3 linked regions of the Homo sapiens genome follow. The protein of the gene in region 1 purifies or fractionates together with the protein of each later gene. This does not show direct contact. Each region holds a gene or a part of one and is shown on either strand. Other genes may lie near its edges. The genes, in order: GLTP, AMD1 and STARD7.

Region 1 (3,748 bases):
CTCGCTCGCTCTGGCTGGAGTGCAATGGCACGGTCTTGGCTCACTGCAACCTCCACCTCCCTGGTTCAAGCAATTCTCCCTGCCTCAGCCTCCTGAGTAGCTGGGATTACAGGCTCCTGCCACCACACCCAGCTAACTTTTGTATTTGTTAGTAGAGATGGGGTTTCACCATGTTGGCCAGACTCACACCCCAAGTCTTTGACCTGGCTCTATCCTACTTCTCCTCTAGGTCTCAGCTCAAATATCACCTCTTCAGAGGTACTGCTCCCAAACCCCTACATCCGATCTCAGCCAACAGGCTTCAGTCATCCTCCGTCACTACACTGTTTTATTTTCTTCACATACTCATCAGTGTCTGAAGTTGTCTTACCAATTTGTGTATTGCATTGTGTTGTGTTCCCAACCAGATTGTCAGCTCCACAAGGGCAGGGATTTTGCTGTATCATTCACTTTATCCTCAGTGCCCAGTGCAGTGCATGACACATAGTGGTGGAGGGTGGGGGAGGGGTGGGAAGGATGGCAAATGTTTATTCTGGAATGAATAAGAGGCTCTCAACAATGGTGTGTTAGATTTTTGCATAAGCTGGGCATTGGGTTTAGGACATAAGCATCTAGGTGGGTTGTGGCTGAGATGACTTGTGATTCAAGGTGTGAGAAGCTGGACCCTGGGCTGTTGGAGAGACATTAGGTTTGGGAAACAAGTGTCCAGGTTGTGGGTGAATTGGTATAAACTGGGCTGGCTCCAGCTGTTACCAGTAGAAGGTGTCCAGGTACTTGGCATCTTGGAGAAAACACACAAACGAAGCAAGGAAAGCAAAAGCAAGGATTTACTGAGAACGAAAAGTCCACCCCACAGTTTGGGAGCAGGCTTGAGCGTAGAGGCTCAAGAGCTCTGCTTACAGAATTTTCTAGGGTCTCAATACTCTAGAGGTTTCCCATTGGTTACTTGGTGAATATTCTATGTAAATGAAGAGAATGAAGTGAAGTCACAGAGTCATTTACTCAGAATGTGCCCTATTGCAAATGGAGAGGATGTGCAAATGGAGAGGATGTTACTTGGTGGGAGAGGATGAATGTGAAGTTACAAAGTATAAATGGAGAGGATGTTTCTTGGAGTGTGTGGTCTGTGTAAATGGAGAGGATGAATGTGAAGTTACAAAGTGTAAAGGGCGTGAATGGAGAGGATGAAGTGAAGTTGCAAAGCCGTTTACATTCCTGTCATTGCTAAGGTGCTTTTTGATTTAGGTCTAGGAAGTCAGCCTTATGTTCCCTGCCTCCAGGCCCTATTTTTCTGCCTCACAACAGGTAACATCAGACTGTTGAGGGCAGACTGGACCCCAGATTTCGGGAAGCAGGAGTTGTCCAGCAGGGCAGTGGCTGAGTTAGACTGTGACTTCAGCAGTGTTCAACAGGTATAAGGTCATTGAAGACCAAGAATCAAGCAATCGAGCGTCCTCGTCGGTTGTAGCGAAAGAGAACCGTGACCAACAGGAGAGCAGTGTCCACCCAGGTCACTTGGGGTTACTGGGGTACAATTTTGGGGGAAACGGGGGTCCTGGGGAGCGTTGGCTGGGTGGGGCTGTAACCCGAGCTGGTGGGCGGGTTGTGAGCTGTGACCTGGCCCGAGTCGGCCCGCCCGGATTGGGGGGCCAAACCGGGGGCGGCGGGAGGCACACCTGGGGAAGACTCACCTGGGAGCGGCTCACTTGGGCCCTCCGGGACCCATGAACCGGCGCACCTCCTCTGCGTCCCGCCCCCGGCCGGCCCCCCGGCCAATGGGGGCGCGGAGACCTCGGCGGCGGGCGCGGATTGGGAGCCGGTGAGCGGGGGCGGGGCGGCGCGCCCGGCAGTTTAGGCGCTCGGCCGGCGGGCGGCGCTGAGCGCTCGGCTACGAGGGCGCCGTGCGGGCGGAAGTGGCGACGCTGGCGTCCCCGGAGCCTGCGGCGGGCGGCTGTGACGGCCCCGGCGCTGACGGCGGCGGCCGGGGGGGCGGTGTCGACGCCCGCGGCGCCGGCTGGGGCATCACCGCGGGCCTCGACCCCGAAATGGCGCTGCTGGCCGAACACTTGCTGAAGCCGCTGCCCGCGGACAAGCAGATCGAGACCGGGCCCTTCCTCGAGGCGGTGTCCCACCTGCCGCCCTTCTTCGGTGAGCCGGAATGGAGGGGGGAGGCGGCCCGCAGCCCCACGCGCACCCGAATCCTCCTTCCCCCGAGCATCCCCTAACCATCTCTGCCCTAGACACCCCTAAGTACTGTTTCCCCAGGCACCCAAGATCCTCTTTCCCTCCACTCACCCTAAATTCTCCCTTTCCCGGACCACTCCCAAGTCCTCTCCGCTCTAAACATGTCACATCCTGCCTGTCCTCCCCAAATCCTCCCTCTCCCTAGACACCTCACAGTCCTACATATCCCCCAAATGCCCCCTGATCATCCGTGCCCCCAACACGGATGATCTTCCATCTCCCTTAGGCATTCTGTAATCCACCATCTCCCCCAAAGCCTCCTGCCCCTTCTTCCCCAAAGTCCTTCATCCCTGGCGCTTTCTGATGGCTCTCAACTCGCTCCCCTTACAATGAATCCCCCCATTTCATAAGCCTTCTCTTTGAACGCTTCCAGCCTCTCCCTCATGGGACCTACAAACCCTTCCTTCTTCCCTCAGAATTCGCCCATTCCAGATCAAAGACTCCCATCTCCCCCTCCAAGGGTAGGAAGCCTGGTGAGGCGGGGACAAGGAGAGGGTTTTGAAGATGGAGTTGCAAAATTCCAGGGCCTCTTTCTAGGGGAAACCACCTAAAGTTTTTCCTCCTTTTAGGACAGGGGTGAGGGTTGTCGGGGGAGCTGTTTTGTGAGGTGACATCAGACATACAGAGCTTGGCACCAATTCCTCCCTCAGTTTGGGCTCTACGAGAGGAAGCCCCTCCCCTGTATGTCGTGTGGAAGTTCCTGGGCGCATTGGGAAGGCGGTCCACTTTCAGACCCTCTTCCCGCACTCCCTCAGCCTAGCCCAGTCCAGCCAAGGCCCCAGATGGAAAATGGGAACTAGAAGCCAGCACCACTGCCCCTGCCCTTTGCCTTTTGGGTCCCGGGTAAAGGGTGCAACCTGAGCCTCTATTCTCCTTCTCCATGTGGGCTCTGTCCTGTCCTGCTGGTTCACTTGGTGGCCTTGCAGGAAAATACCAGCCCCCAGGGCAGAGTCCACCTGAAACCCAAAGACAGGAGATCTTAAGACAGTCCGACTTAGTGGGCAAAGAAGGCTTGTTAGGGGTGGTAGTTCCCACAGTGTCCTGAGCTCTGGGATGGTTGTGGTTACCTGGAGGCTATAGTTCCCCTCCTTCACCTCGTGAGCCTCAGTGTCCCCAGCTGTGAAACGGGGATGCTGATCTCCTAGGGCAGCTGTGAGGAGTCGATGAGGTGGTGTGTGTAAAGTACCGAGGCCGTAAGTGCCAAATAGGTCTTCGCTGTAGGGGGTGTGGTTTTAAGTTCCTGAATCCAGTTTTGGTTCCTTGCTAGAGTGATTAATCGGTGTTTGAGGGAGTGCAATTGTCTGGTGTGTATGATTCCCAGACCTGGGTAAGCAACCTGAGAGCAAGGGCTTGGTTTTTTACATCCACTCTGTGTCCTCAGTGCCCAGAACAGTGCCTGGCACATAGCAGATGCTCAGTCAATACTGCTGAATGCACAAAACTTTCTTATTATCAGTGTCACAGTCTTGAGATAATACTGACTCTCCAGGTGGGGGCTTGGGAG
Region 2 (3,748 bases), on another chromosome or scaffold:
GGCGCCTGTAATACCAGCTACTTGGGAGGCTGAGGCAAGAAAATCGCTTGAACCTGGGCGGCAGAGGTTGCAGTGAGAGGAGATTGCGCCAATGCACTCCAGCCTGGACAGACTGAGACTCCGCCTCAGAAAAAAAAAGGGGGGGAGGGGCTGTTTAGTCCAGTATCCCCCAGCAAGGCCCATCACAATATATACTATAAGCATTAAAAGTATTTATGGAATAAATTAACTCTGCAACTACAAAAAAGGTGATGAGCTTTTATATACCAATTAGACAACTGTATTTGTATAGAGAAGCTAACTTTCCCTTTGCCTGAACTTCTAATTAAGAGGTCCTTCTTTACCAATTGGGAGGAAAAGACGGCAAACACCTTGAACTGTCCGGTGAGGCTTCAAAACCTATGTCCTAGAAACATCCACGTTACACTAAATGTTTCCTTTTATACCATATTTTTAAGAATAATGTAAAAAAAAGGCTGGGCGCGGTGGCTCACGTGTATAATCCCAGCACTTTGGGAGGCCGAGGTGGATGGATCACCTGAGGTCAGGAGTTCAAGACCAGCCTGGCCAACATGGTGAAACCCCGTCTCTACTAAAAATACAAAAATTAGCCGGGCATGATGGAAGGTGCCTGTAATCCCAGCTCCTCAGGAGGCTTAGGCCGGAGAATTGCTTGAACCAAGGAGGCGGAGGTTGCAGTGAGCTGACATGGCGCCATTGCACTCCAGCCTGGGTGACTGAAACTCCGTCTCAAAAAAACAAAACAAAACAAAAAAACCCCCAGAACTACAACTGAGAGGAACTTAACTGTTTCACATTATGATTAGGACTGAAATTAGCTACCTAACACTTGTTTTACAGGACTTACCTGAGTACATAAGCTTCCTGCTTGTCAGTTTTTGTCACACTTATGATTGAACATTGCACATCCTTCAAAAGTATGTCCCACTCAGATCTATCATTTAACAAAAAAGTTACGATTAATCCACAATAGTACCCACCTACTCATAAAAATTACAAAGCTCACACTTTTTCTCATGAAGACCACATTTTTAATTAATATTGTACACCAACTTTTAGTTTCTTTCAAAATAATCTATATTGACACACCCAGATAAATGATAGGTATATTATGCTATATATGAAACAAAAATTGGTCATTATACTATGTATTTACAAATTACTTAAAGAAAAATAGGCAAAAAAATGTTCAAAGGTCCATAAACCAAGGTAAACCATTAACTAATCAATGATTACAGAAATTCAATGGGATACTTTGTCTATAAAATGTGCAGATTTTTAACCTTAAGAAACACTTAAAAAAAAAGAAGAGCATAATTTTACCAATCTAATTGGCATAGAAATTTAAAAGCCTGTCTGTCGGGACACAGTGAGTGATGTTACTCTTATAGCACTCACAAAAAACTGGAATGACTGCCAATTACAAGCATACCTAGAAGATTTTGGGAATACTACGCAGCTCTCCAAATGCAATGAGAAAGCCCGTTTAACAGGAAATGTGCAGTACAAGCAACCATAGCAATGAAGGTCATATGGACATGAAGAAACTAGTCTTAATTTGCCTGAGAATAGAATTAGGAAAGTGTTCATTCTTTCATTAGTGTGCCCATTATAAAAAGACAATGTAATTCCATGGAACAGCTTAACATGACAGATATTATTTTTTGAGACAGGGTCTCACTCTGTCGCCCAGGTTGAAGTGCAGTGGTGCAATCACAGCTCACTTCGGCCTTGACCTCCCAGGCTCAAGCAATTCTCTTGCCTTAGTCTCTCAGGTAGCTAGAACCACAGGCATGTGCCACCATGCCCAGCTGTTTGCCAGAAATATTTTTTAGGCCAGGCGTGGTGGTTCACGCCTGTAATCCCAGCACTTTGGGAGGCCAAGGCGGTGGATCACTTGAGGTCAGGAGTTTGAGACCAGCCTGACCAACATGGTGAAACCCTGTTTCTACTAAAAATACAAAAATTAGCCGGGCGTGGTGGCAGGTGCTTATAATCTCAGCTACTCAGGAGGCTGAGGCTGAGGCAGGAGAATCGCCTGTAATCCTAGCACTTTGGGATTGGGATGGCTTAAGCTCAGGAGTTTGAGACCAGGCTGGGCGATAGAGTAATACCCTGGTCTTTAAAAAAAGAAGAAAAATTTTTAAGCCTTATGATATCTGACAGGCCATTGCTCTACACTCATAAAAATGGCAAATCTTTTTTTTTTTTTTTTTGAGACTGAGTCTTGCTCTGTCACCCAGGCTGGAGTCCAGTGGCATGATCTCTGCTCACTGCAACCTCCACCTCCCAAGCAGCTGGGATTACAGGCACGTGCCACCACACCTGGCTAATTTTTGTATTTTTAGTGGCGACAGGGTTTCACCATGTTGGCCAGGCTGGTCTCATACTACTGACCTCAGGTGATCCGCCTGCCTCGGCCTCCCAAAGTGCTGGGATTACAGGCATGAGCCACCGTGCCCAGCCGGCAAATCTTTTGTTAACCAGATAAGACCTTTTGAGCGAAATCCAACAGCAAAATGTTTTTATTCGTTTGTATTAAAAAGCAAACACAACACCAAACATGCCTGGTAGAATTTTGTGCCTGTCTCACCATTTTGCTACAAGAAACTGTTACTGACCCATCTGCGTACCAATACCCATCCAAAAATCTTTAATGTGAAAGGCTTGCTAATGATTACAGAGCTGAGTTCCTGTATTAGACTATAACATGACTAAGCAACTTTTTTAAAAGAGCTACTAAAAAGTTTTAAGGTTCTTTAAAAAGGGTGCTAACAATTTGTTCATATATGGAAAGAATACATATGTGGGATATATACTGTGACAACCCTTGAAATTACCCCTGGCTTGTGTGGTGGCACACGCCTGTAATCCCAGCTACTCGGGAGGCTGAGACAGAAGAATCACTTGAACCCTGAAGGTGGAGGTTGCAGTGAGCTGAGATCTTGCCACTGCATACCAGCCTGGGCAACAGAGGGAGACTCCGTCTCAAAAACAAACAAACAAAACAAAAACAACAAAAACTTGGCCAGGCACAATGGCTCATGCCTGTAATCCCACCACTTTGGGCAGCCGAGGCGCATGGATCACCTGAGGTCAGGAGTTTGAGACCAGCCTGGCCAACATGGTGAAACCCCATCTCTACTAAAAACACAAAAAATTAGCTGGGCGTAGTGGTGGGCGTCTATAATCCCAGCTACTCTGGAGGCTGAGGCAGGAGACTGAATGCGGGAGATGGAGATTGCAGTGAGCCGAGATCGCACCACTGCATTCCAGCCTGGGCGACAAAAGTGAATCTCCATCTCAAAAAAATAAACAAACTACTCGTGGGAATGAAATCCTGCTTCACTTGACTAAGATAAATTTACAAAATCCTTGCAAAAATTATCTACTATTAAGACTCCCATTCCTGAATATGAAGGTAAATAAAAATATCCACTATGATTTAAGTATTAGAAACATTACAATTTCAGATTTTTAAAGAGCTTATCTAATTCAGGTCCATCAATAATGCTACCTGCTTAAGTCATCACCTACTGACTTCCCACTATAACTTATTCTTGCACATACTCCTTTTTACCCACTGGACGCACTAACAAATCCCACCCTCCCTTTCTCAGTTATATTCACCATTTCTATTAAGACTTTTAAACACGTTCCATGGCTGAACTAAACAGTGTAACAGTCTTTTCCTTTCTTATTTTTGTTTTCTCTTTTTTTAAAGGCT
Region 3 (3,748 bases), on another chromosome or scaffold:
GCACAGCTCCTAATTTAAGTGAGGTTAGAGACTTCTAGAAGGGGCTTTGCATCTTGAAGATAACACAAAGGCACAGGATCTTGAGGGAGCTGGGAGTCCAGGAGTACAACCAATCTGGGGGAAAGAATGCCAGCAACACTGCTCTAAGTAGATTATTCCTGCTGCAGGTCTTGGTCAACCTGTACCCTGGCCTTGTCAATACTGAGTGACCTAATACCGTTTTGATTAATTCCTTTTTGGCTTAAATTAACCAAGACCAGTTTCTTTGTTACAACCAAGAACCCTGACCAGCTGCAAAACCATAGAGAAACAGAGAAGGAACCTTAGGATAGGCATTTAGATGTTGCAGAAGAAGAGCAAAAGCAAAACCATAGCTAGATTTGCTCAGAGAACAATCAGGCACCATAGGGCATCGATTACAGCATTTTTGAGGTCTATAAAGCATCCTTCAACAATAACTAAGCACAACTCTTGAGTGTCATTCTTTAAAAAAAATTTTTTTCTTCATTGCCCAAGCTGGCCTCAAATTCCTGGGCTCAAGTGATCCTCCAGCCTCCCAAGTACAGGCACATGCCACAACACCTGGCCCGAATTATCATTCTTGCCACATAATAAAGGGGAGCATGTTTCCACTGGTGGAATGTCGTACTAAAACATCAGAGGCTCATAAAATAATTACATAGTTAATAAAGTTTTAAGAAAATTATTAACTATAGGCAACATTTTTTCATGACCTTCTAAGAATCAAGGTGGTTCAGAGCATCTGACCCACTGCTTAATCAAGCTCTCCTATATAATTAAAGGTTACTAGGTGGCTTTGACTAAAATTATGAAAAGGGACGGAAATGTCTTGTGGAGACACAGTATGAATGATAGAGCAAGACTGCTTCACGAAAATGTAAATGATCAAGTTATTTTTTCCCAAGGTTTAGGAATCCCTGAAGGGTCTGAACTTCTAAATGCTAACATGACAAGACCCAATTAACATACAGGAGCACAAAGTCATTCACTAACATATATGTGGAGAAAAGGAAAACCTCTCATGACACATCTCTTTAGGCTGCTGTGCCCAATCTTGTTTGGATGGGATGGGTGGCTAAACCTTCACATCTTAAGAGACTTAAGAGAGGACAGAAGGACAAAAGAGATTATTCCCAAAATAGTAAAATCAGCAGATTAGAAAAAGGATCAAGAAAAGAGAGACCATGCCTTTCTTTCTCCAAAACGAAAATCATTTCAATATCTGAAAAAGGCTGGACCGAAAGCTATAGAAACTGAAAGCAAACAAACCATGAAAACAAAGTAAGTGAAACAACATTTGGTTCATCTAGGGGTCCTGCCCTCAGCATGGAGCTTGGTGTAAGGCTCCAAAATTACTTAAATGAAACCATCCCTACAATTAGGAATTTCAGTCAGACAACAGCCTCACTTCACATAATTCTCCTCCTCTTCAAATTCCAAGTTATTGTCAAAGTCAGGTTCTACTGATACGGGACACACCTAGAAATAAAAGACATAGGAGTCAGGCGCAGTGGCTTATGCCTGTAATCCCAGCACTTTGGGAGGCCAAGGCAGGCGGATCACTTGAGATCAGGAGTTGGAGATCAGCCTGGCCAACACAGTGAAACCTTCTCTTCTAAAAATAAACACACAAAATTAGGTGGGCGTGGTGGGGCATGCCTGTAGTCCCAGCTACTTGAGAGGCTGAGGCAGGAGAACTGCTTGAAACCAGGAGGTGGATGCTTCAGTAAGCCCAGATCACACCGCTGCACTCCAGCCTAGGCAACAGAACAAGACTCCATACCCCCCAAAAAAAGACATAGAGCCAGGCGCCTGGCTCTCAGCACTTTGGAAGGCCAAGGCGTGAGGACTGTTTGAGGTCAGGAGCAGGAGTTCGAGACCAGCCTGGCCAACATGGTGAATCCCCGTCTCCACTAAAAATACAAAAATTAAACAGGCGTGGTGGCACCCCCGCTGTAGACCCAGCCACTGGCAAGGCTGAGGCACGAGAATAGCTGGAACCAGGGAGGCGGAGGCTGCGGTGAGGTGAGATCACACCACTGCACTCCAGCCTGGGCGACAGAGTGAGATTATGTCTTAAGAAAAAAAAGAGTCTGGGCGTGATGTCTCATGCCTGTAATCCCAACTCTTTGGGAGGCCGAGACAGGCGGATCACGAGGTCAAGAGCTGGAGACCAGCCTGTCCAACATGGTGAAACCCCATCTCTACTAAGGATACAAAAAATTAGCCGGGTGTGGTGGCAAGCACCTGTAATCCAGCTACTCAGTGGAGGCTGAGGCAGGAGAATCGCTTGAACCTGGGAGGCGGAGGTTGCAGTGAGCCGAGATCATGCCAATGCACTCCAGCCTGGGCGACAGGGTGAGACTCTGTCCCGGAAGGGGGCGGGAGGGAAGGGGAGGACAGGACAGGACAGGACATCAATTAGCTCATTGCAGTTCTAGGGCAACTAGTTAATGGTAAAATAATGAAGACAACCTCAAAAAATTGAGATCTAATTTTATGTAGCTCTGAAGATCTAACAAGGGGTTTAAGGGTTTACCAGTAAGATACCCTGAAGTGACAATGGCCAAAAAAAAAAAAAAAAGTTCCTTTAAGGCAAAAGGACTTTATGCGGATCATTTATCTAGTCAATAACACACTGAAGTTTAACATATCCCGAATGCCCTGAAAGACAGAAAAGAGAAAATGGCCAATTTTCTTTATGCAACTTTAATGGCACTTATTTACTCAAATTTCTGGAGCAATGAACTGTAACTTTTAAAAAACTATGAGGAGGTTAATGGAACATTTTCCCCTAGCCTTTCATTTCTTAACATCCTTCCTCTCTTTGTTCCTGTAACTTTTCTTTTTAACTGTTCCAAAGCAATCAAAAACATGACTACTGTATTTTTCCATTAGATTTGCCCTGGAATCACAGAATGCCAGCTAGCACCAAAAACAGCAATCCCAAGATATTTTCGTTGTTTAATTTAAGACAACTGGGTACTAGAGCAAGTATTAAAAGATCTGATTTCTACATCTGGCCACAGCAGCCAGTCAAAATCACTTCTCAAATTTTCTTGCTGTTGCTTGATTAATAAGACGCTATTTGGTAAGATGTTCTTAAGCACAAAAGACGAGAAGACAAGTTATGCTTTGTCATTCTGAATAGGACTCAAATAACATAAGGAAAACACATGCCACTTTAAGGCACACATTCAAAAAGACACCCTGCACATTCCACCCGCTTAACCAAAACAGCTATGTTAGAATTAGTTTGTGCCAGGACAAGTTGGTACAGAATCAGCACAGATGAGCCAAAGGCTGTGATTTAGGGGCCATGTGACAATCATGCTCTTTTTCCATTAACAATGAAAGAAATGCACTTGAGACACACTCCAACTGTGCTCCATTATGGAAGCTACCCAAAAATCATCTCACTAGAACAAACGAAATCCAAGATGTTCTAAGCTAGCTATGACAACCTCAGCAGTGCCTACTTTCAAGCAAATAGAATACTTAAACACAAAGCAAATAAGTTAATCTGTACCCAGAATATTTTAATAAAATATAAACATGACAAGCTATCAAAACAAAGACCTAAGGAACCACTGTGCAACCAAGATGTAGTTGTTGAATAGCATATTTGCCTTCCTATCACATTAACAAATATTTTAAAAAGAAAAAAAATCCTCAAGATGAACAACATGATCAAATTTTAATTACATGAAAAACCAAATTCAAGCAT

What was found.
Region 2: the proteins of GLTP (region 1) and AMD1 purify together in Homo sapiens (affinity purification with mass spectrometry; 2 studies listed by BioGRID and IntAct, with this or other methods). This does not show direct contact.
Region 3: the proteins of GLTP (region 1) and STARD7 purify together in Homo sapiens (affinity purification with mass spectrometry; 2 studies listed by BioGRID and IntAct, with this or other methods). This does not show direct contact.

The regions. Positions count from the first base shown.
Region 1 is NC_000012.12:109,878,672-109,882,419, reverse strand, and holds the start of GLTP (glycolipid transfer protein), read left to right. Parts: upstream 1-1,878; 5' UTR 1,879-2,045; coding exon 2,046-2,148; intron 2,149-3,748. UniProt on the Homo sapiens protein: Accelerates the intermembrane transfer of various glycolipids. Catalyzes the transfer of various glycosphingolipids between membranes but does not catalyze the transfer of phospholipids. May be involved in the intracellular translocation of glucosylceramides.
Region 2 is NC_000006.12:110,884,712-110,888,459, reverse strand, and holds part of AMD1 (S-adenosylmethionine decarboxylase proenzyme), read right to left. Parts: intron 956-3,748; coding exon 869-955; intron 125-868; exon of another isoform or gene 54-124; intron 1-53.
Region 3 is NC_000002.12:96,202,161-96,205,908, forward strand, and holds part of STARD7 (stAR-related lipid transfer protein 7, mitochondrial isoform 1 precursor), read right to left. Parts: intron 1-3,748. UniProt on the Homo sapiens protein: May play a protective role in mucosal tissues by preventing exaggerated allergic responses.